3 linked regions of the Homo sapiens genome follow. The protein of the gene in region 2 purifies or fractionates together with the protein of the main gene of each other region. This does not show direct contact. Each region holds a gene or a part of one and is shown on either strand. Other genes may lie near its edges.

Region 1 (6,717 bases), on a different chromosome or scaffold from region 2:
TCTTCCCCTTTTGTTTCCCAGGACCTGGGAGAGTTCAGCCGGGTGGTCCAAGGCTGCCCGAGGCCATGGGAGGACCTTCGGAACCCCCCATGCTACTCCTGGGTCAAAGGGGGTTCTCTGCTGGGCAGTGTGGAGGCGACCACTCTAACCCCTACCCCTGCATTGAGTGAAGAGGTGGGGTCAGCCTCAGGTTCTCTCCGGACCCCCAGCGGAGCCCACCCGTTCACTTCGTTTTACTCAGTGGGGCTCCCCGGGAGGGGCAGGGAGAGTCTGGTGTGGCCTTGAGAACCGAGTGTGTGACCAGGACCCGGCAGCAGGCACCACGCCCACCACCCTCGAGCCTGGCCTCCTCGGCCTACATTTGGGTGCGCCCCACGGAGCTCTGTCTACACCTTAGGAGCGAGTGGGAGCCCCTCTCTGTGATGAGAGCGTCGCAACCCTGCCCTGACCTTTGCAGCCCCAGCACTGCAGGGCGCCACTCCCTCCCCGTCTCCAGACCCGCACTCCTACACAGCCCGGACTCTAGGAAAACAATCCTTTTATTGAACATACCCAAGAACGGGGGTGGGAAGGCAGCAGGAGGGGTCAGGGCGGAGGGGCCTCGGCCTGGAGAGGGGAGACTGGCCGCAGCCGGGACTCACTGGCACGGGTCCCTGAGGACCCCTCGCTCGGCGGCCGCGCTGCCCAGAATGAAGCCCACGGCCAGGGACACTGTCTGGTCGAAGGCGCCGCGCAGCTGCTCCACGTGCTGGTTCAAGGTCAGCAGCTGGTCGCGCAGCGGGCCCAGGATGTTCGCGATGTCGCCCAGGTGCCCCAGGGTCTGCAGCAGGGCGGTGTTCAGCGACGGGGGCGCGGCCGGAGGGGGCGCGCAGTCCTCGGGGCGGCCGGGCGGCGAGTCGGGGTCTTCGCGGGCCGGGGGTGGCGGCGGGGACCCGGGGCCGCGGACGGGCGCGCGGTCCTCGGGGATGCAGGTGGCGAGGGCGGTCGGGGCGGGAGCTGGCGGGGAGCCGGGGGCGGGGGAGGCGTCCGCAGACTTCGGTGGGGACGGGCTGAAGCGGAGCGTCCAGGTGGGGTCCGCGTCGCGGTCGCGGGCGGTGGGCAGCGGGGTGGCGTCTGGGAACGCGGAGCAGGCGGTCGGGCGGATTTTCGCGGGGCGCGCCCGCCCCTCCCCCGCAGCCCTCGGCAGCCCCCGGTTCCTCCGCAGTCCTCGGCCCCACCTGGCCCCCCAGTCCCCCGCCTACCTGGTTCGCTGGGAGCCGGCGCGTGCGCGTTGGGGACCGGGCGGCGGGCGCGCTGGGGGCGCCCGGACCCCGGGGAGCGGCGGCGAGGCCGTTTGCGCCCGTTGTCGCCCAGCAGCCCCATGAGCTTCCGGATCTGCTCGTCGAAGGGCCCGGGCGGCTGGCCGTGCGCCTCGCGAAACTTGTCTTTAAGGAACTTGTAGCGGCGGCGGCACTGCGCGGGGGTGCGGCGCACCTGCTGCTGGGCCAGCGCGGCCGACACGCGGCGGTAGGTGGGCAGGGCCTGGCGGCGGTCCAGGAGCAGCGCGCGCCACACGGCCGGTTGCAGCAGCGTCCCCAGCAGCAGCTCCGTCTCCCGGGCGCTCCAGGGCGTGCGCTGCGCCGAGCCCGGGGACACCGGCAACCCGAGTTCCCCCAGCGCGCTGGGCGAGGCGGGCCTCCGGGGCGGGGTCCCCGGGGCGTCTCCGGGTGTCCGCGGCTCGGGGTCGGGGCTGGCGGGCGAGGGCGGCGCGGGGGGCGCGAGCGGGGGCGGCCTGCGGGGCCGGAGCAGCATCCCGGGGCTGGGGCGCGGCGCGCGAGGATGGGGAGAGGGCCAGACGCCGCCCGGGCCGCCCACACGCGTTCTGAGCATCCCGCGCCGCCGTCCCTCCGTCCCAGCCGGGTCTACGCGACCCTCCCACCATCCCCGCCCCGCCCCGCGCGCCCCGCCCCGCCCGCCGGGTCCTAAGGGGTCGGTCCTGGCGCTGCGGCCGGGAAGACGCAGAGCAAAGACTGGCTTCGGTTGGAAACGGAGGGTCCTCAGGAGTTCTGTTCTTAGACCCGTTCAACGGAGGTGCCGCGATGCCTAAGCCCCGGCGGCTCCGCTCGTTTTTAGCCTGTGCCGAGCCTACCCCCGCCCCCGTCGAGGTGTGTGCGGAGCCCCTCCCGCTCCGGAAGGCGCTGGCGCCCCCTTGTCCGGCCCCCAGTGCTGCCCCCGCCCCCGCCGCCCCCGCCCGGGCTCAGCACCTGCACGCGAGGGGTCCGGAGGACCGACCCGGGTCCCAGGGGGAGTCGCCAGGCCAGGGGATGGGTCCGAGGAGAAGCCACGCCAGCCGCGGGAATGGGTGTCGGAATTCACGCGCTCGCAGAAGTAGCTTTTAAAATCTGAACTTCTTCCATCTGCAGCGCGTCTGCAGCCAGCATCCCTGGGAGGAGGAAATTCTCTTCCTATTAAATGCTCTTCCTCCTTGCCGCACGGCGCCGAGTCCTTCTGTCTCCTGGGTCTCCTCTGGGCCGTGGCAGCTTCTCGCGTCCTCGACACGGTTGAGGACGGGCCAGGTGTTTTGTTGAATGTTCCTCGACTTGGGTTTGCCTGGTGTCTTCCTGTGATCCGACTAGGGTGGTGGGTTTTAGGAAGGAAGGCGCAGGGGTGGAGTCTCGCCCCTCCTGTCTTGTGGCTCAGCACCGGTGAGGTCTGCTCCGTGCTGGGGTGCGGACTGTCTGCCACTCTTGCAGTCTTCAGGTATCGCCTTTCCATCCCTGCTCTGGTCACTGGAATCCGGCCCCTCAGCCCATCCCCAACTCATGGGGAGAGTAATTAGGCCCCACCTCCTGGAGGGGTGTCTGTATTTTCTGGGATTCTTCTGTAAGGTTTGTCTCTCTGCCTGTTGATTTATTTACTCAGTCATTTATTTCTACAGTGTGGGCTCGTGTATATTTATTTTATCCTTTAGGTCATAACCCGATGCTGTTATTATTTATTTGTTTTAAAAGTTCTGTTTGTTTTTATTATTTTTTACAAATGGGGTCTCTTTCTGTCACTCAGGCTGGAGTGCAGTGGCCTGATCACAGCTCACTGTAGCCTTGAACTCTTGGGCCCAAGTGATCCTCCAGCCTCAGCTTCCTTGGTAGCTGGGACTACATGTGTGCACCACCACACGCACCTAGTTTTTTTTTTTTTTTTTTACTTTTTGTAGGGACAGGGTCTTGCTATGTTGCCTAGGCTCGTCTTGAACTCCTGGGCTCAAGTGATCCTCCTGCCTGGGCCTCCCAATGTGCTGAGATTACAGGAGTGAGCCCCTGTGCCGGGCTTTTATTTGTATTTTTGCGCATATCGTTCCTGCTTTGGCCATTGAAAGTCTTCTCACCTCCTCCTCTCTTCCTTGTCCTTTTGAAACCCCCTCCCAGCTCCCTGGCAATACAGGATGCTCCTGCCTCATCTGGTCCTTTGCCGACCCTGGTCCTAGAATCAGCTTTTCAGACACTTCTCAAGAAATCTGTGGTTCCTGGCCAGGCACTCATACACGGGGCTCACACCTGTATTCCTAGCACTTTGGGAGGCTGAGGTGGGCAGATCTCCTGAGGCCAGGAGTTTGAGACTGACCTGGGCAATATAGTGAGACCCCCATCTCTGCAAAAAAATAAAAAATAGCCGAGTGTAGTAGCAGGTGCCTGTAGTTCCAGCTACTTGGGAGGCTGAGGCGGGAGGATGTCCTTTTGCTCAGGAGGTTAAGCCTGCAGTGTACCGTGATGACCTGACTGCACTCCTGCCTGGGTGACAGGGCAAGACTCTGTCTTAAAAAGAAAAGGGGGGCGTGCAGGCGTGGTGGCTGTAATCCCAGCACTTTGGGAGGCTGAGGCAGGCGGATCACCTGAGGTCAGGAGTCTGAGACCAGCCTGGCCAACATGGTGAAACCCCATCTCTACTAAAAATACAAAAATTAGCGAGGCGTTGGATGTGCACCTGTAATCCCAGCTTCTAGGGAGGCTGAGGCAGGAGAATTGCTTGAACCTGGGAGGTGGATCTAAAAAAAAAAAAAAGGCTGGGCGCGTGGCTCAAGCCTGTTGACACCCAGCACTTTGGGGGGCCGAGGCGGGCGGATCACGAGGTCAGGAGATTGAGACCATCCTGGCTAACACAGTGAAACCCGTCTCTACTAAAAATACAAAAAATTAGCTGGGTGTCGTGGCATGTGTCTGTAGTCCCAGCTACTCAGGAGGCTGAGGCAGGAGAATCGCTTGAACCCAAGAGGTGGAGGTTGCAGTGAGCCAAGATCGCACCACTGCATTCCAGCCTAGGTGACGGAGTGAGACTCTGTCTCAAAAAAAAAAAAAAGATTTTTAATAACTGAGGGTTGGGGGTGCTGGGGGCATCTGATGGGTGGAGATCAGAGATGATGGTGCACAGGACGCCAGCGCAGACTGTCTAGCCCACAGTGGCACTGCAGTGCACAGCACAGCCTGCCTTGAACCCGTCTGGGACAGAGCCGGGGAGTGGATGGCGGCGTGGGGGACAGAGCCGGGGAGTGGATGGCGGCGTGGGGGACAGAGCCGGGGAGTGGATGGCGGCGTGGGGGACAGAGCCGGGGAGTGGATGGCGCCGAGAAGCGAGGCTCATGAGGTTGCTGGCTGTCAGCTCTCTAAGAGAAAAGTCCTGTGCTCAGCGGAGCTGAATTTATTGGAGCCACTGCAGTGAGGGGTCCGGCCTGCATGGCGTGGGGGCGAGGACGCACACATGACCAGGACCAGGGCCCCCTGTCTCGGGCAGCTCCTGTCCAGCACAATTGGACTCCACCATCTTGTCTTCTCGGCTTCTCCTGGGCCTCCCTCCAGGCGGATAACCGCACCGTTCATCACGGGAACTTCCCGAAAGACCCATCAGCTCTTTTCCCAAAAGCATCCACAGTTTACAACCCCAAAACCATTGGAAGCCCTGGCTGTGAGCCCCTCCCTGAGTGGTGTCCACCAGTCTTACCCTGTGACAACCGTGAGAGTGTCCTTTCCCGGGCCACAAGCCCCACCTGCAGGAGCTCCCCGTCCTGGCCTCCTGCTCCACTGTGGTCAGAGTTACGGCGAGCTTGCACCGTGATGACGGGGGACCCAGCTCTGTCTTGCCCACAGGGCTGCCAGGTGGGAACTGGCTGGGTTGGGCAGAGTTTAGCGCAGATTGACCCAAGAACAGCCGTGGGTCTGTGCAAATAGCCTGTAAGAACTGATGGACAGACGCCCGTCCTGATCTTGGATGAAGACACTGCACATCCAGCATGAGGGACGTCCTTTTTGTCAATGGAGGGCGAGCCTGGATGTGCGCACACAGGAGCGTGGTTACGGGAGTCCGTTCTTTTAGGCTGTTTGCAGTCACAACCAGAAGCAAGTGTTTCCTGCCCCAGCCGGTGCGTTTGCTTGTTCCCACGGCCTGGGAGTGCTGGCGGTAGCTTTCCTCCTGGCGGGGCCTGAGTTGTGACACACGTCTGGCAGGCCCGGGCCTTTCTCTGCGGCATCAGAGGGCGTCGCTGTGGACCGGCAGATTCGTTTTCAGTCCTGGGTTGAGCACATCTCGCACCTGGAGTCCTTGTGAGCACCTGTAAGGGGCCTTCGTGCGGCCATGAAGGAAAACGTGTCGACCTGCAGAGGTCACCGTGGGGACCCGCAGAGTGACCACACAGCAGCAGCTGGTAGAAAGGACTTTATTCAGAAATTGGTGCCAGGACGGGAGGGAGCCATGCGGACAGTCGCGCTGAAGCCTGAGCCCAGTGCTGCCCCGGGGTCAGTCCTGACCGCTGGAATGTTGATTTGCACTGAGCACTGTCTGTTAGATACAAAATCTGAAAATGCGGGCGTGGGTCAGCAAAACATAATCCATATAAAAGCCTAAAAAAAAGTGAACTGCATTTCGTGGCCAGGACGCCGACTTCCTCTCATGTTACATCGAAGCGGGGCCCGGATGTCTCCGGTGAATTTATGTGGGAAAACACATCTTGACATTAAAAATGCAGCGATTTGTCACAGGTCACAGTTTTCCTAGAAATGCCACTAGCTGGCTGCTCTAAAGAATGACTAATTCTAAAACTCAAAAGCACAACCCTGGGTCTTGTGATTGGCACCGTGAGAGCCCCACGGAGCTGGGGCCGTGCCCGGGGCTCTGGTCACCCAGCTGCAGAGGCCAATGTGGAGCTGACTGCGCGGGACTCCCATGGCCCTGGCCAAGGGGCTCCACACCAGCTGCCTGGGGTCCAAGAACCTGAGCAAGGGCAAGGGGCCGTGGAGGCAGCGCACTTCCTGTCTCTGGCGAAGCGTGAGTGTGTGGCGAGCTGTGGAGGCAGGGCTGCGGGCGCACATGCATGGCTGCTGGAGGCGGTGGGCAGTGGCGGTCCCTGGGGCATGAGATGGGTGGGGGCACTCTCAGGGACCCCCGCCACAGAGCCTCTGTCTTGGAGCTGCTCTGAGTGTCCTTTCCAGGAAGCAGGGCCTTTGCCCGGGCATGACCACCTCACCAAGGGCTGTTCTAAGCTGGGGGGCCCTGGGCCCTGGGGGAGCAGGCCCAGCCCAAGGTGCCTGCTCCAGCAGCAGGCCTTGGGCACCTGGGGGTCTGGGCTGGGGAGGAGGGGCACTGGGCAGGGAAGGGGAGAGCGGTTCTGGGTCTGGGTTGTGGGGGGTGAACCCAGGCAGGGTCTCGGACCGGAGGTCTCGGAGTCCCTGGGAGCTGCAGTTGGCCACTCAG
Region 2 (7,028 bases):
GCTGGGATTACAGGCATGAGCCAACACGCCCGGCCTATTTTATTACTATTTTTTAAGGGATTAGGTTTTACTATGTTGCTCAGGCTGGTCTTGAACTTCTGGGCTCAAGCAGTCCTCCCACCTCATCCTCCCAAATTGTTGGAATTACAGGTGTGAGCTACTGCACCTGGCCTGTAGTTGCTTTTTAAAAAACAGACTTTTCTGAACTATTTCTGTAATATCTGTGTTCTTTGTCATGTTTGGCCACTGAAGTCTCTGTTCTCTAATTTTAGTGGTTAGCTAATGATTGGAGAGACATTTCCTTAAACTGGAACAACAACAAAATCTTCTAGTCTTTGCCAAATGGCACTCTGTGTGCCTGATGAGGCACACCTTTAACACTCAGACAATTTACAACTCTACCTTAGCCTTCCCTTCCTGCTTGTGCAGCGTTTCAAGGTTTCAAGGTCAGCCAGAGGTGAAAAGCTTGGGGCCTTCTCAGAACTTTCCCAAGCATGTACACAACCCTACACAGGCCAATGGCTTTCTACATTCCCAGGAATTTGTTGGAACATTTCAAGGCTTCTACAGATATGTCCATCAGATTTTCCTTTTAAGATTTTTTGCTTTTTATTGTTTACCCCAACTGTTATCCATTGCCTTCGGCAGTAGCAACATTAAAACAAGCGTAAAATTTTTTTTTCTTTACAAATGTTCCCTCTCCCACTCCATGTTAGTCCATTCTTGCATTGCTATAAAGGAATACTCAAGGCTGGGTATAAATAAAAGAGGTTTAACTGGCTTATGGTTCACAGGCTATCTGATAAACATGGTGCCAACATCTGCTCAGCTTTTGGTGAGGGCCTCATAGCAAAAGGTGATGGAGCCAGCATATCACCTGGCAAGAGCAGGAGCAAGGAGATGCCACACAAGTTTTTTTTTTTTTTTTTTTTGAGATGGAGTTTTGCTCTGTTGCCCAGGCTGGAGAGCAGTGGCATGATCTCGGTTCACTGCGACCTCCACCTCCCGGGTTCAAGCGATTCTCCTGCCTCAGCCTCCCAAGTAGCTGGGACTACAGGCATGCATCACTATTCCTGGCGAATTTTTGTATTTTCAGTAGAGTCGGGCTTTCGCCATGTTGGCCAGGCTAGTCTTGAATTCCTGACCTCAGGTGATCTGCCCACCTTGGCCTCCCAGAGTGCTGGGATTACAGGTGTGAACCACCACGCTCAGCCTGGGAGTTACATTTTTTTGTTGTTGTTTTTGAGACAGGATCTCAGTGTCATCCAGACTGGAGTGCAGTGGCGCAATCTCGGCTCACTGCAACATCCACCTCCCAGGTTCAAGCGATTCTTCAACCTCAGCCTCCTGAGGAGCTGGGACTACAGGTGCACACCACCACACCTGGCTACTTTTTTTTTTTTTTTTTTTTTTTTTGTAGAGTTGGGGTCTCACCATGTTGTCCAGGCTGCTCTCAAACTCCTGAGCTCAAGTGAACCTCCTGCCTCAGCCTCCCAAAGTGCTGGGATTACAGGTGTGAGCCACTGTGCCTGGCAAGGGATGACATTTTAACATGAGATTTGGAGAGGACAAACATCCAAATCTTTCCTTCAACTATCAGAGATGCTTTCACGGCTTTGCCAGTTCTGAAAAGGAAAGACAAATATTCTGTGTGGGGTCTTCCCAGGCATCACTTAACAATCATAGAATGACTCTTCTTTGGGTTATGAGGCTTTGAATGAGTTCTAGCTTCATTCTGCTTCCTCCCTGTGGGAAATGTGGGCTGTTATTTTCCAGGGTTCCTGCTGAGCTAGGGAGTGGGAGATAGGACTAGGATAAGTTAAAATTCCTCAAGTCTTGCCGTTTTTTATCGAGAGTCACTTTTCTTGAATAAATGCTCTTTGAGTTGCTGCAAGCCTTTGGTTAATTTCCAGAATTGTGAACAAACTGCTTCTTATGGTTTTTGTTAGTTTTTTCATTGTTTTTATGGAGGGGTGGAATTTTTGAATTCCTTTTTTTTTTTTTTTTTTTTTTTGAGATGGAATCTCGTTGTCGCCCAGGCTGGAGTGCAATGGCGCCATCTAGGCTCTCTGCAACCTCCGCCTCCTGGATTCAAGCGATTCTCCTGTGTCAGCCTCCCAAGTAGCTGGGATTACAACTGCCTGCCACCACGCCTGGCTAATTTTTGTATTTTTAGTAGAGACGGGGCTCCACCACGTTGGTCAGGCTGGTCTCGAACTCCTGACCTCAAGTGATCCACCCACCTCGGCCTCCCAAAGTGCTGGGATTACAGGTGTGAGCCACTGTGCCCGGCCTGAATTATTTAATCCACCATTTTGCTGTTGTTAACTGGATACAATATTTCTTATTCCACTTCTTCCCCAGAGCAATCATGCAAGAAATGTGTTGCTGCCTCCATCTCACAAGGGAGGAAACTTATTCTGTCTATCTTTTGTGTATTAGTTCAGCAACCATGAGAGAAACCAAGAGAACTGCTTTTTTGCACATAAAATGCTTGATAAGCTTAGTAGCTCTGCTCTTCAAATGCAGCAGGTTACAGGTGTCTACGTTCTGGTTGCTCAGCCATTTCTAGACAGTTGCTCTCGCCACTGCCTTCCAGCCATTAAGCAGGGGGAACAGGGGAAGAGATCATGCCTGTCTTTTCCACACATCGACCAGTGCCCACTTCCCTTCCATCGGCTGGAACTGGTCATAAACAGCTGGCAGAGGGCTCTCTGGGTCTCTTTTCCTTCAGGTGTGAAATAAGAATGTCAATGATAGGCCGGGCACGGTGGCTTACGCCTGTAATCCCAGCACTTTGGGAGGCCGAGGTGGGTGAATCACGAGGTCAGGAGATCAAGACCATCCTGGCCAACATGGTGAAACCCTGTCTCTACTAAAATACAAAAAATTAGCCTGGTGTGGTGGTGCACGCCCGTAGTCCCAGCTATTCGGGAGGCTGAAGCAGGAGAATGGCTTGAACCTGGGAGTGAGAGGTTGCAGTGAGCCGAGATCATGCCACTGCACTCCAGCCTGACAAAAGAGCAAGACTCTGTCAAAAAAAAAAAAAAAAAGAATGTCAATGATATTGAAGTTATACATTTGACTACTGTAACAAAAAAACACAAAATAACACAGCTTGAATAACACAGAAGATGTAATGTCTCACCCTGAAAGTCTTCACAGGTGGTTGGAATGGAGTATGGTGGCTCCATGTCAAGGATTCAGGCTTCTTCTGTTTCATTGTGTCCTCTATCTGCTGGTCCAAGACAGCCCTCAATTGTGCATTCCAGTGAAATGAGAGAAAAAGGGAAAGTTCTCACTCTTTTCCTATAAGGGATGACTCAGAAATTGACTATAATTCTGCACAGTCTAAGTAATGATGTAGGCTAAAAAAAAAAATAAATAAAAGAGAGAGAAAAAAGGAGGCTGGGCACAGTGGCTCATGCTTGTAAGACCAACACTTACAGGCAGACACAAAAGGATCACTTGAGCCCAGGAGTTTGAGGCCAGCTTGGGTAACGTAGTGAGAACCCATCTATACCAAACATCTTAAAATTTTGCTGGGCATGGTAGCAAGCACCTATACTCTTAGCAACTTGGGAGGCTGAGGCAAGAGGATCATTTCAGCCCAGGAGCTGGTGAGCTATGATAGTACCGCTCCACACCAGCCAGGGTAATAATGAGAGACCCCCCACACACACACACCTCCCCCAAAAATAAATTGACTACATTATTTCCACTCACATTCCATTGGCCAGAACTTAGTCACATGGCCACACCTAGCTGCAAGGAAACCTGGGAAATGTAGTCTCTGGTTGGGCAGTCATGTGCCAGGCTAAGGCTTCTGTAACTGTCCAAGCTGGGAGAATGGATCCTACCACATGCATCCCTCCTGAACCACGGATTGGCAGGAGTCGCACAACACTTTATGTGATATAAAGTAATGATGACCAGAGGCCACATGGTGTCATGGTTTAAAACAAGCGTTCTGAATCTAGATTCTGATGAGATCACCTAATGTGCTGAGTGCTTGGGAAGACAAGGGATATCCCATTTCTGAGACCCATTTGTCTCACTTGTAAAATAGGCCAAATAACCTCAAGAGGCGGAGTTGTGAAGAATAAAAGACAAGACAAGTGCTTGGTGCATAGCAAGTGTTCATATCTGAAAAGTGGCTTCCTTTGTAATTCACCAGTTCCTGGAGAGAAAGGGCATGTGTTTTCAAAGTTTCTCTTTTTAAGCTGTGGACCCCAAGGACTTTTTTTTTTCTTTAGACGGAGACTCGCTCTGTCGCCCAGATTGGAGTACGGTGGTGCAATCTCAGCTCACTGCAGCCCCTGCTTCCCAGGTTCAAGCAATTCTCCTGCCTCAGCCTCCCAAGTAGCTGGGATTAAAGGCACCACCACGCCTAGCTAATTTTTGTATTTTTAGTAGAGTTGGGGTTTCACCATGTTGGCCAAGTTGGTCTTGAACTCCTGACCTCAAGTGATCCACCCACCTCGGCCTCCCAAAGTGCTGGGATTACCAGAGTGAGCCACGGCACCTGGCCCCCAAGGACATTTAGCTCAGTGTTTGGTTGAGTCCATCCTTCTTCCTCCACATGTCTGAGCACCCCACCTCCATCCCCCTTTCCCTCCTGGATCCTATTTTTCTCCCAGCCCACCATGAAGAAAGGTCGTTTATGCCCTGGGTTTGCCGCGCAGGAATGCTAAGAATCAGAGGTATAGCCCTTGGCTCCAAGTCACATAGCCATTCCAGGGCAAAATCAAGGTGTAAACACAGCCTCCCAGTTCTGGAATTCTTCCTGGGCTTGGGGCTTGCCCCCACATACCCACTAACTCACCTGTCTCCCATTCTTCCCCAGAGTGGGGTCAACAGTGGATTGGTCCGCGCCAAAGACTCCATCACCAGCTTGAAGGAAAAGACCAACCGGGTTAACCAGCACGTGCAGTCTCTGCAGGTGTGAGGACCCCCTATATCCAACACCTGCCCTTCCTCCAGGGCCAAGTTCCCTTCTTGGAGCCTGCCTCCAGCAGAATGCACCCATAGCTCAGTTGGGGAGCTTGAGGCTCAGAAAGAAAAGGAACCTTCCCAGGCCCAGATCTTCTTTTCCACAGGCTGTCCCCTCGTGTCCTTGGCTAACCTCTCCTCCTTCCATGCTCCAGAGCGAGTGTTCTGTGCTGAGCGAGAATCTGGAGAGAAGGCGGCAAGAGGCAGAAGAGTTGGAGGGGTACTGCATTCAACTCAAGGTGAGCCAGTGGGACGCAGGAATGGATGGGGAGAGGGGAATGGGAGTAAGAAGAGGGTGGGAGAAAGAGGGGAGGAGGCTGGGTGCAGTGGCTCACATCTGTAATCCCAGCACTTTGGGAGGCCGAGGCAGGCAGATCACCTGAGGTCAGGAGTTTGAGACCAGCCTGGCCAACATGGTGAAACCCCATCTCTACTAAAAATACAAAAATTAGCCAGGTGTGGTGGCGGGCGCCTGTAATCTCAGCTACTTGGGAGGCTGAGGCAGAAGAATTGCTTGAATCCACGAGGTGGAAGTTGCAGTGAGCCAAGATTGCGCCACTGCACTCCAGCCTGGCCGACAGAGCGAGACTCAGTCTCAAAAGAAAAAAAGAAAAGAAAGAGGAGAAATGGAATGGGTGGACCGAAGAGAGGTGGGAGGAAGTGGAGGGGTGCCACTCTGGCACATCTGGCTAAGGAGGAAGCCATCCCCTTAGCCAAGGAAATGAGCTGGTGAGTGTGTCTTGTACTGGGGGGCTAGGAGGCCTGGAGCCTGGATGGAAACAGACAGGCTAAGGGTTGGGAGGCAGAACTGGAATGGGAAGGCAGGGCCCTCGCCCTGGTGTCTGACCCAGGAGAACTGCTGGAAGGTGACCCGGTCTGTGGAAGATGCTGAAATCAAAACCAACGTCTTGAAGCAGAATTCTGCCCTGCTGGAGGTAAGGGCTAGGGGGCAGTCCCAGGATTTGTGGGAGGAGGTCAGATGCACGAGGGACTCAAGATACACTTTTAGGTGGAACTCCCTGCCCCGACACCACCACCACACTGCACCTTCGTGCACATAGTCATCCTTAGAACTCGCTGATAAGAGGGATTCAAATGAGGCTCCAACACCCAGATGGGGGACTCTTGCCCTGCAGTCACATTCAGGTCCCAGAAAGAGAATCGAGCTGGACTTCAGGTGAGAAGGCCCGTCCTGTCCACATGCCCACTCATTTTCCAACAAAATGCTGAGAAAGCTTCAGTTGTTCTTGCCAAGTGGCCGGGACTGGTATTTGACGCCTGGAGGGCTTGGAGGGCCGGGTGGATACCTGGAGGCAGGCTGTGGGAGGTTAGCGGGAATTGGAGTCCAACTGGGCCTCAAATGGTGCCTCCCCTCCCTAATGACAGCCAGTGAGACTTCCAACATACTGTCCCCACAGGCGTTCTACTTCCAATCTCGGGGAGTACTGGAGCGGATTTTGGGGTGGAGGTGGTTGCGGGAGGAAAGCGGCTGGACGCTGTGACCCCGTCCTCCCTTACCACCCAGGAGAAGCTGCGCTACCTCCAGCAGCAGCTGCAGGATGAGACGCCGCGACGGCAGGAGGCCGAGCTGCAGGAGCCGGAGGAGAAGCAGGAGCCGGAGGAGAAGCAGGAGCCGGAGGAGAAGCAGAAGCCGGAGGCTGGCCTCTCCTGGAACAGCCTGGGCCCCGCCGCCACGTCCCAGGGCTGCCCCGGCCCGCCAGGGAGTCCCGACAAACCCTCGCGGCCACACGGCCTGGTCCCCGCAGGCTGGGGAATGGGGCCTCGGGCTGGCGAGGGCCCCTACGTGAGCGAGCAGGAATTGCAGAAGCTGTTCACCGGCATCGAAGAGCTGAGGTGGGCGGGACCTAGGGGCGGAGCCTCGAAAACGAGATCGGCGGGGACTCAGGGGTGGAGCCTCGAGGAGATGCGGTGGGCGGGACCCAAGGGACGGGGGTTCTCAAGTAGCTGAGGTGGGCGGTGACATGGGTGGAGCCTCGGGGACCTGAGGTGGGCGGGAACATGGGAGGAGCCTCGAG
Region 3 (7,028 bases), on a different chromosome or scaffold from region 2:
CACCATTAGGTGTAGATGGTCAGCCTTTTGAACAAACTGACACTACAGAAGAGGCAGGTTTCAGCTATCTAAAAAGGACAACTGTTAAAAAGTAGTTTGGATTGCTACGTTAGAGTGGTATCATTAGAAGCATTTAAAAGTTGAGTGTAGAGGCCGGGTGCGGTGGCTCACACCTGTAATCCCAGCACGTTAGGAGGCCGAGGCGGGCAGATCACAAGGTCAGGAGGTCGAGATCATTCCTGGCTAACACGGTGAAACCCCGTCTCTGCTAAAAATACAAAAAAAAACTCTACTAAAACTACAAAATTAGCCAGACATGGTGGCAGGTGCCTGTAATCCCAGCTACTTGGGAAGCTGAGGCAGGAGAATTGCTTGAACCTGCACGGCAGAGGTTGCAGTGAGTTCACTGGTATTAAGGTGGTTTAGTTATTACAGTATTTGGAAGTTGAACAAATGACTATTGAGGTACCATTTGGTTTTGACTTGAAATTTTAGCCAGTTCTTACAACTTGTAAATGAACTTTAGATCTAATCATGCGTGTTCCTTAAAGTTGTGTGCTTTTAACTTTCTTTTTTAGGGCAGCGGTCTTAATTCTTTTTATGGTCAACTAGAATACATAGGGAGAAGTGTTCATTATTGGAAGAAAGTTTTGCCATTGTTGAAGATAATAAAGAAGAACAGTATTCCTGAACCTATTGATCCTCTGTTTAAACATTTTCATAGTGTAGACATTCAGGTAACAGAGTTCCTTTATGAATTTATTGGAGATGGGAATTTCCAGTTTATAAACAAAGACGTGGAGCTATAAACTGCTTAAATTAATTGCCTTGTTATTTAACGGTAATCTTGTTTTCTAAATTCACTAGCTCTCACAGATAAGATATGACAGAGAAGAGTAATGAGATGTTTGTCTCTTAAGATCATATAAAATCTTTGGAAAATCATTTGGGTTTTATATTCTGAGTATAAACAATTTGACTAAAAACTATTCTATGTGTTTAGGCATCAGAAATTGTTGAATATGAAGAAGACGCACACATAACTTTTGCTATGTTGGATGCAGTAAATGGAAATATAGAAGATGCTGTGACTGCTTTTGAATCTATAAAAAGTGTTGTTTCTTATTGGAATCTTGCACTGGTAAGTAGATGCAGTACTTGAGCTAAAAGTTGTATTTATTTATTTATTATTTTTTTTAAAAGACGGGGTTTCTCTGTTGGCCAGGCTAGAGTGCAGTGGCACAATCTTGGCTCACTGCAACCTCTGCTTCCCAGGCTCAAGCGATTCTTGTGCCTCAGCTCCCGAGTTGCTGGGATTACAGGCATGAGCCACCATGCGTGGCCAAGCTGAAAGTTTTTTGTTTTAAAAAGCTAATGATTTCATGAAAGCACTATTTGTATAGATTTTTCACAGGAAGGCAGAAGACATTGAAAATGATGCCCTTTCTCCTGAAGAACAAGAAGAATGCAGAAATTATCTGACAAAGACCAGGGACTACCTAATAAAGATTATAGATGACGGTGATTCAAATCTTTCAGTGGTCAAGAAAGTAAGTAGCAGGTTGTTGTATGTACGTTCTTACTGATAACCCACTGGTCAGTGTTTTTGCGTTGGTCTTATATTTTGGTAATTTCAAAAATACTCAGTAATATGTTGTTATTAATGCACAGAAGGGATGCGTGTGTCTAAATGCTTAGATTTGCTTGCTTTGTCTTAGGTTTGGTGTGTCTTTTTAAACTTGGGAATCTAGGTATATGCTCTTAAAAAGTACTTCTTGGGGAATTAGAAAAGATTTCTAAGATAAGACATTGATTTTGTTATCTTAGCAGTGTAATCAAAACAAATATTATAACCTCAGGACTAATTCTTAATGAACTTTGCTGAAATTGAAAGTTGTTGCTGACAACTTAAGAGCATTTCTTCTCATCGTCATCAGCCATTATGAACGCCCTTGTTTTCTTGCTGTCAGCTGTTTGAGATTGTCATGATGATGTTAAATTATGTTCAGTCTTCTGAGTGTTTTGTTGATTAATTTGTGTTACTACTCTTTTATTAGGATTTATGTTGTCTGGTGTATTGTAGCATCTGTATTTCTGTCACCATTGAAAATCAGTTAGAAAACATCAGTAACTTATTTTGTTCACTTGGAAAAGCTTTCCAAGTTAACATTCCTCTACAATTATCATGGTTAACAGAAGTAATAGAAAGAGCATGGACTTTAGAATCAGAAGATGTTAGACTGTACAACACTTTTCTGTGTTCCTGAAGAAAAAAATAGAATAAAGACAAAAAAATAAAAATAATAATACAAAACAACAGAAAAACAAAGAAAAAAGATAATTAAAAAACACTTTCACGTGTATTATTATTTAAAGTGTAAAGTGCTTATTAAAGTGACAAAAATGTAAATAAGATAAAATATATCATTTTAGAGTTTTTACTTTTGGAATTTTTTGCAAATGAAAGCCCTTAATTAATGTCTTTTATTTTTAGTTGCCTGTGCCCCTGGAGTCTGTAAAACAGATGCTTAATTCAGTCATGCAGGAACTCGAAGACTATAGTGAAGGAGGTCCTCTCTATAAAAATGGTTCTTTGCGAAATGCAGATTCAGAAATAAAACATTCTACACCGTCTCCTACCAAATATTCACTATCACCAAGTAAAAGTTACAAGGTAAACAGGAAAGAATGGAATCATTTCATTGTGAAATTGTTTCTGTTCTAAGTGTTTTAAATGCTGTTTTGTTATTTTTATTTTTTTTTTCAGTATTCTCCCGAAACACCACCTCGATGGACAGAAGATCGGAATTCTTTACTGAATATGATTTGCCAACAAGTAGAGGCCATTAAGGTAAGTCACTTAATTTCTCTAGCTGTACTTTTTATTCCAAGATTCCTTCCCTGGCTACTCTCTCACTTTTTTTCTGAAGCTGGTCAGAATGTCCCCTTGCCATCCAAATAGTATGGCAAGGGGACATTTTGGTCTTTTTTTTTTTTTTTTAAGACAAGGGTCTTGTTCTGTTGTGCAGGCTGGAGTACAGTGGTATGATCACAGCTTACTGCGGCTTCAACCTCCTAGCTCAAGAGAGCCTCTTGGCTCAGCCTGCCACGAAGCCAGGACTACAGACAGTCACATGCCACCAGGCCCAGCTAATTGTTGTATTTTTTGTAGAGATGGGATTTTGCCATGTTGCCCAGGGTGGCCTTGAACTCCTGGCTCAAACAATCCTCCTGCTTCAGCCTCCCAAAGTGCTGGGATTGCAGGTGTGAGCCACTGTGCCCAGCCTACATACCTCGGTCTTGACCCTTTACCATATTTTGTTTTGTTTTGTTTTGAGATGGAGTCTCACTCTGTTGCCCAGTCTGGAGTGCAATGGTGTGATCTTGGCTCACTGCAACCTCCACCTCCCAGGTTCAAGTGACTCTCCTGCCTCAGCCTCCCGAGTAGCTGGGATTACAGGCACCCGCCACCAGGCCCAGCTAATTTTTGTATTTTTAGTAGACACAGAGTTTCACCATGTTGGCCAGGCTGGTTTTGAACTTCTGACCTCAGGTGATCTGCCCACCTTGGCCTCCCAAAGTGCTGGGATTACAGGTGTAAACCACCGCACCCAGCCCTTTACCATATTTTTGAAAGTACTTTATGTGTCTCTCTCCTCATCTTCCACAAAATTTGAGACCTTCAAAGGTAGAAACTGTTTTATTTAAAATATAAGAGTTCCTGACACAGAGAAGGTTCCCGAGTGATTGAAGTGCTACAATGTACTAATCATACTCTGGTCTATGAGTTCATTCCCAGATTAGCTGTGGATTACATGTGTTTCAAATGTATAGCTAGGAATCGAAAAGTGGTCTGAGCTTCAAAAAGTCTTACTATATTTTAATACTTCCATATGAATTTGACTTAATTATGTAAGGAAATAGTTATGTATATATATCTTATTTTAACAATAGGGTTCAAAGGAGCTTGACTTTTTTGGAATTGGAAATAAAAGTAGGTTCTTTCATGTTTATCAAGCAAGAACTAAATTACTCATACTGCTAAAGTTACATCAAGGATATGCTGATGTGTGGCGATTATTACAGTGTGATCAGCAGCATTTGCAAATTAAGAGAATACTATTTGGTGGGGAAGACATTTTTGAATTTGCACAAAAATTTTGAATGTTAATTCTGTGTAGTCGTGGCCTATGACAATTACATACAATTTTGACTTAACATACAGGTTTCAGGCTCCCAACATTGTATTCTGTGGAAGTATAGTGGAGCACTAGTCCATGAGCTTGAAAAGCTTGGTACTAGTACTGACTCTGCCATTAATTAATGATCTTGGGCCAGTCACTTCCTTTGTGACTGTTTGGCTTCTTATCTTTAAAATGAGAGAATTATTGAAGCCAGTTCTCATCACACTGAATGTTAAAAATTACAGTTACAGCAGTGATTGCAAATTCAAAGCTCTGGTGCGGATACCAACAGTGACTATAAAGTTTTCTAGGTGATTCCACTAGTTTCTTATTTCTTGGATGTGTATGTGTAGCATCTGGACTAGGCACTGTAGATGGATGAATGGGGGAAATTTTATTTAGCTTGAAAATTGAGATAGTTTTGGACCTCATGGTTAGGTCTTTCTGGGAAATTTTTAATTGAAACACTTGTAGAAACAGAAAGCAGACATGCTAGATCTGTCCCTGACCTCACTTGTTAGAACTGATCGGATTCCTGGGCTGATACAGAGAAGTTTGAAACTTTTCAAAATTTACCTGTTTTCTGATACCACTACAATTTCTTTGGAAAAAGAATTTCCTGTTAAGTGTCTGTTTTGTAAGGGGACATTTTGTAGGTTCTAGGGTGTTGGGTATGGTGCTGTCATTTAGTTTTCTTCAGCAGAGATCAAGTAGCCACATAGCTACACTAGACGGCATTGGATCTATCTGCCATCTTGTCAAGGCAGCAGAGTTGTGTTAAGAAAACATTTTTGGAGTCAGATGTGTTTCAAATTCCAGCTGTTATTCCCTGCATCCGTTTCTCTCATTTTAAGATAGGAGCTAATATTGTTTACCTAACAGTGTAGATGGTGTAAAAATTAAGAGTTTAAGTGCATTGGACGTATTATTATATACATAATAAATTCTCTGCAGCTACTACTTTTTTCCCTTTCCTGGTGGAGCATTTGAACATCACCTTGAGAATTAGTTGTATTTTGTTTGAACACAGGGTTAAGTGAAAAGCTAATTTGGGGAGGTGATTTGGAATGTCAGGTAGTCCAGGTTGCAGTGTAGAAAGAACACACTGAAAGGATGGTCAGTGTAATGTTAGAGGACTGTGAAAGTTGGGGAAAGAAGTTTAGTTTGTAGGTACTTGTTTTTTTGAGCAGGGAATTGTCTTGGCTGGAGGTGAACGTCAGAAAGGTTAATGTAGGCAAGTGTAGAATGGAAATGAAGGTGTGATCATTTAGGAGGTTATTTGTTTAGGTGAGAGAGTTAATGAATTAGGTTTTGTATTAACGAATGAAAATGGGAGCAGATAAATTTTTAACAAATTAAGAATCATATTTTAAAATCAGCACCAGGTACCTAGAACTCTTTGGCAAATAGAAACTTTCAAAAGATATAATCAGGTCCGGGCGTGGTGGGTCACACCTATAATCCCAGCACTTTGGGAGGCTGAGGTGGTGGATCACTTGAGGTCAGGAGTTCAAGACTAGCCTGGCAAACATGGTGAAACCCCATCTCTACTATTATACCAAAAATTAGCCGGGCGTGCTGGCTGACGCCTGTAATCCCAGCTACTCGGGAGGCTGAGGTGGGAGAATTGCTTGAGCCCAGGAGGTGGAGGTTGCGGTGAGCCAAGATTGTGCCATTGCACTCCAGCCTGGACGACAGATCGAGACACCATCTCAAAAAAGAAAAAAAGAAAAAATCAGTTATTTAAATTTAAAAGAGTAAGTTTCCCCAGCACTGTTTCTGGCATGATATAATTAAATGATTAAAATTATTTGATTTTTTTTTTCTTCCAATAGAAAGAAATGCAGGAGTTGAAACTAAATAGCAGTAAGTCAGCATCCCGTCATCGTTGGCCCACAGAGAATTATGGACCAGACTCGGTGCCTGATGGATATCAGGGGTCACAGACATTTCATGGGGCTCCACTAACAGGTGAGCTGGCAAGTGGATAATCGCATATTTTAGTAAAACTACTTTACTTCCCTCTTTTAAGTAGATAACGTGTGAAATCACCTTGTTTATATATGTTTGTTAATATACATGTCAACGTCTGTTTATATGTGACTTCAAAAGCTGTATTAGGTGTTACGGAGATTTTTATAATCCCAAGCAGAAAAAACGAGCCGTATGTGATCACGTGTATATAAAGGCTTAAAGAACACTTAATCCACACCTCAGATGAGCTGAGATGAGATTATTCCTTAAATTGCAAAATGTTATTGAATAGAGTTATGCACTAAGAAATGCTTAATTAAGAACCTACACCTCTGGGGAATTATTTTGATGATAATGATGAGAGGCAGGACGTTATATAGGAAATCTTACTTAATTTGAAATATTATGGTTATATAAAGAAAGAAAAGGAGTTTGGACCTGAATCATACTGGGTTTTTAAGTTCTGCTCTATCACTTACTATAATAGCTGTGTAAGTTAACCTGTCTGAAATGTGGAGATAATACTTGCCTTACATAATTACTATGAGCATTTGTGTATGTGCAGGTGGGCGTGGGTGTGTATCAGACATTTATTAGAGTATACAGTAAACAGTTAATGAACTAAGGTTACTAATAGTGTTTACTGTGGGTTGGCTGTGTGCAAAAGTGCTGTGTGAATGTAATTTGATTTAATTACAGTAACTTAGAATGGCCGGTACCATTATTAATCCCTTTTTTATAAATAAGGAAATGGATAAAGAAAGGTTAGGTAACTTACTCATTATTATACAGCTAGTTATTGATAGAGCCGAGATTCACACTCCAGTGGTGTAACTCCAAAGCACTTGCCAGTATAATACATTGCTCCCA

What was found. The genes of interacting proteins can lie anywhere in the genome.
Region 1: the proteins of TSKS (region 2) and UTF1 purify together in Homo sapiens (affinity purification with mass spectrometry; 2 studies listed by BioGRID and IntAct, with this or other methods). This does not show direct contact.
Region 3: the proteins of TSKS (region 2) and RGPD5 purify together in Homo sapiens (affinity purification with mass spectrometry, with the first as the bait; 2 studies listed by BioGRID). This does not show direct contact.

The regions. Positions count from the first base shown.
Region 1 is NC_000010.11:133,225,363-133,232,079, reverse strand, and holds UTF1 (undifferentiated embryonic cell transcription factor 1), read right to left. Parts: upstream 1,864-6,717; 5' UTR 1,792-1,863; coding exon 1,242-1,791; intron 1,114-1,241; coding exon 638-1,113; 3' UTR 522-637; downstream 1-521.
Region 2 is NC_000019.10:49,746,288-49,753,315, reverse strand, and holds part of TSKS (testis-specific serine kinase substrate), read left to right. Parts: intron 1-3,148; exon of another isoform or gene 3,149-3,254; intron 3,255-4,825; exon of another isoform or gene 4,826-4,846; coding exon 4,847-4,942; exon of another isoform or gene 4,943-5,147; coding exon 5,148-5,231; intron 5,232-5,843; coding exon 5,844-5,927; intron 5,928-6,517; coding exon 6,518-6,846; intron 6,847-7,028. UniProt on the Homo sapiens protein: May play a role in testicular physiology, most probably in the process of spermatogenesis or spermatid development.
Region 3 is NC_000002.12:109,825,298-109,832,325, forward strand, and holds part of RGPD5 (RANBP2-like and GRIP domain-containing protein 5/6), read left to right. Parts: intron 1-578; coding exon 579-737; intron 738-1,003; coding exon 1,004-1,141; intron 1,142-1,403; coding exon 1,404-1,550; intron 1,551-2,494; coding exon 2,495-2,674; intron 2,675-2,767; coding exon 2,768-2,851; intron 2,852-6,019; coding exon 6,020-6,155; intron 6,156-7,028.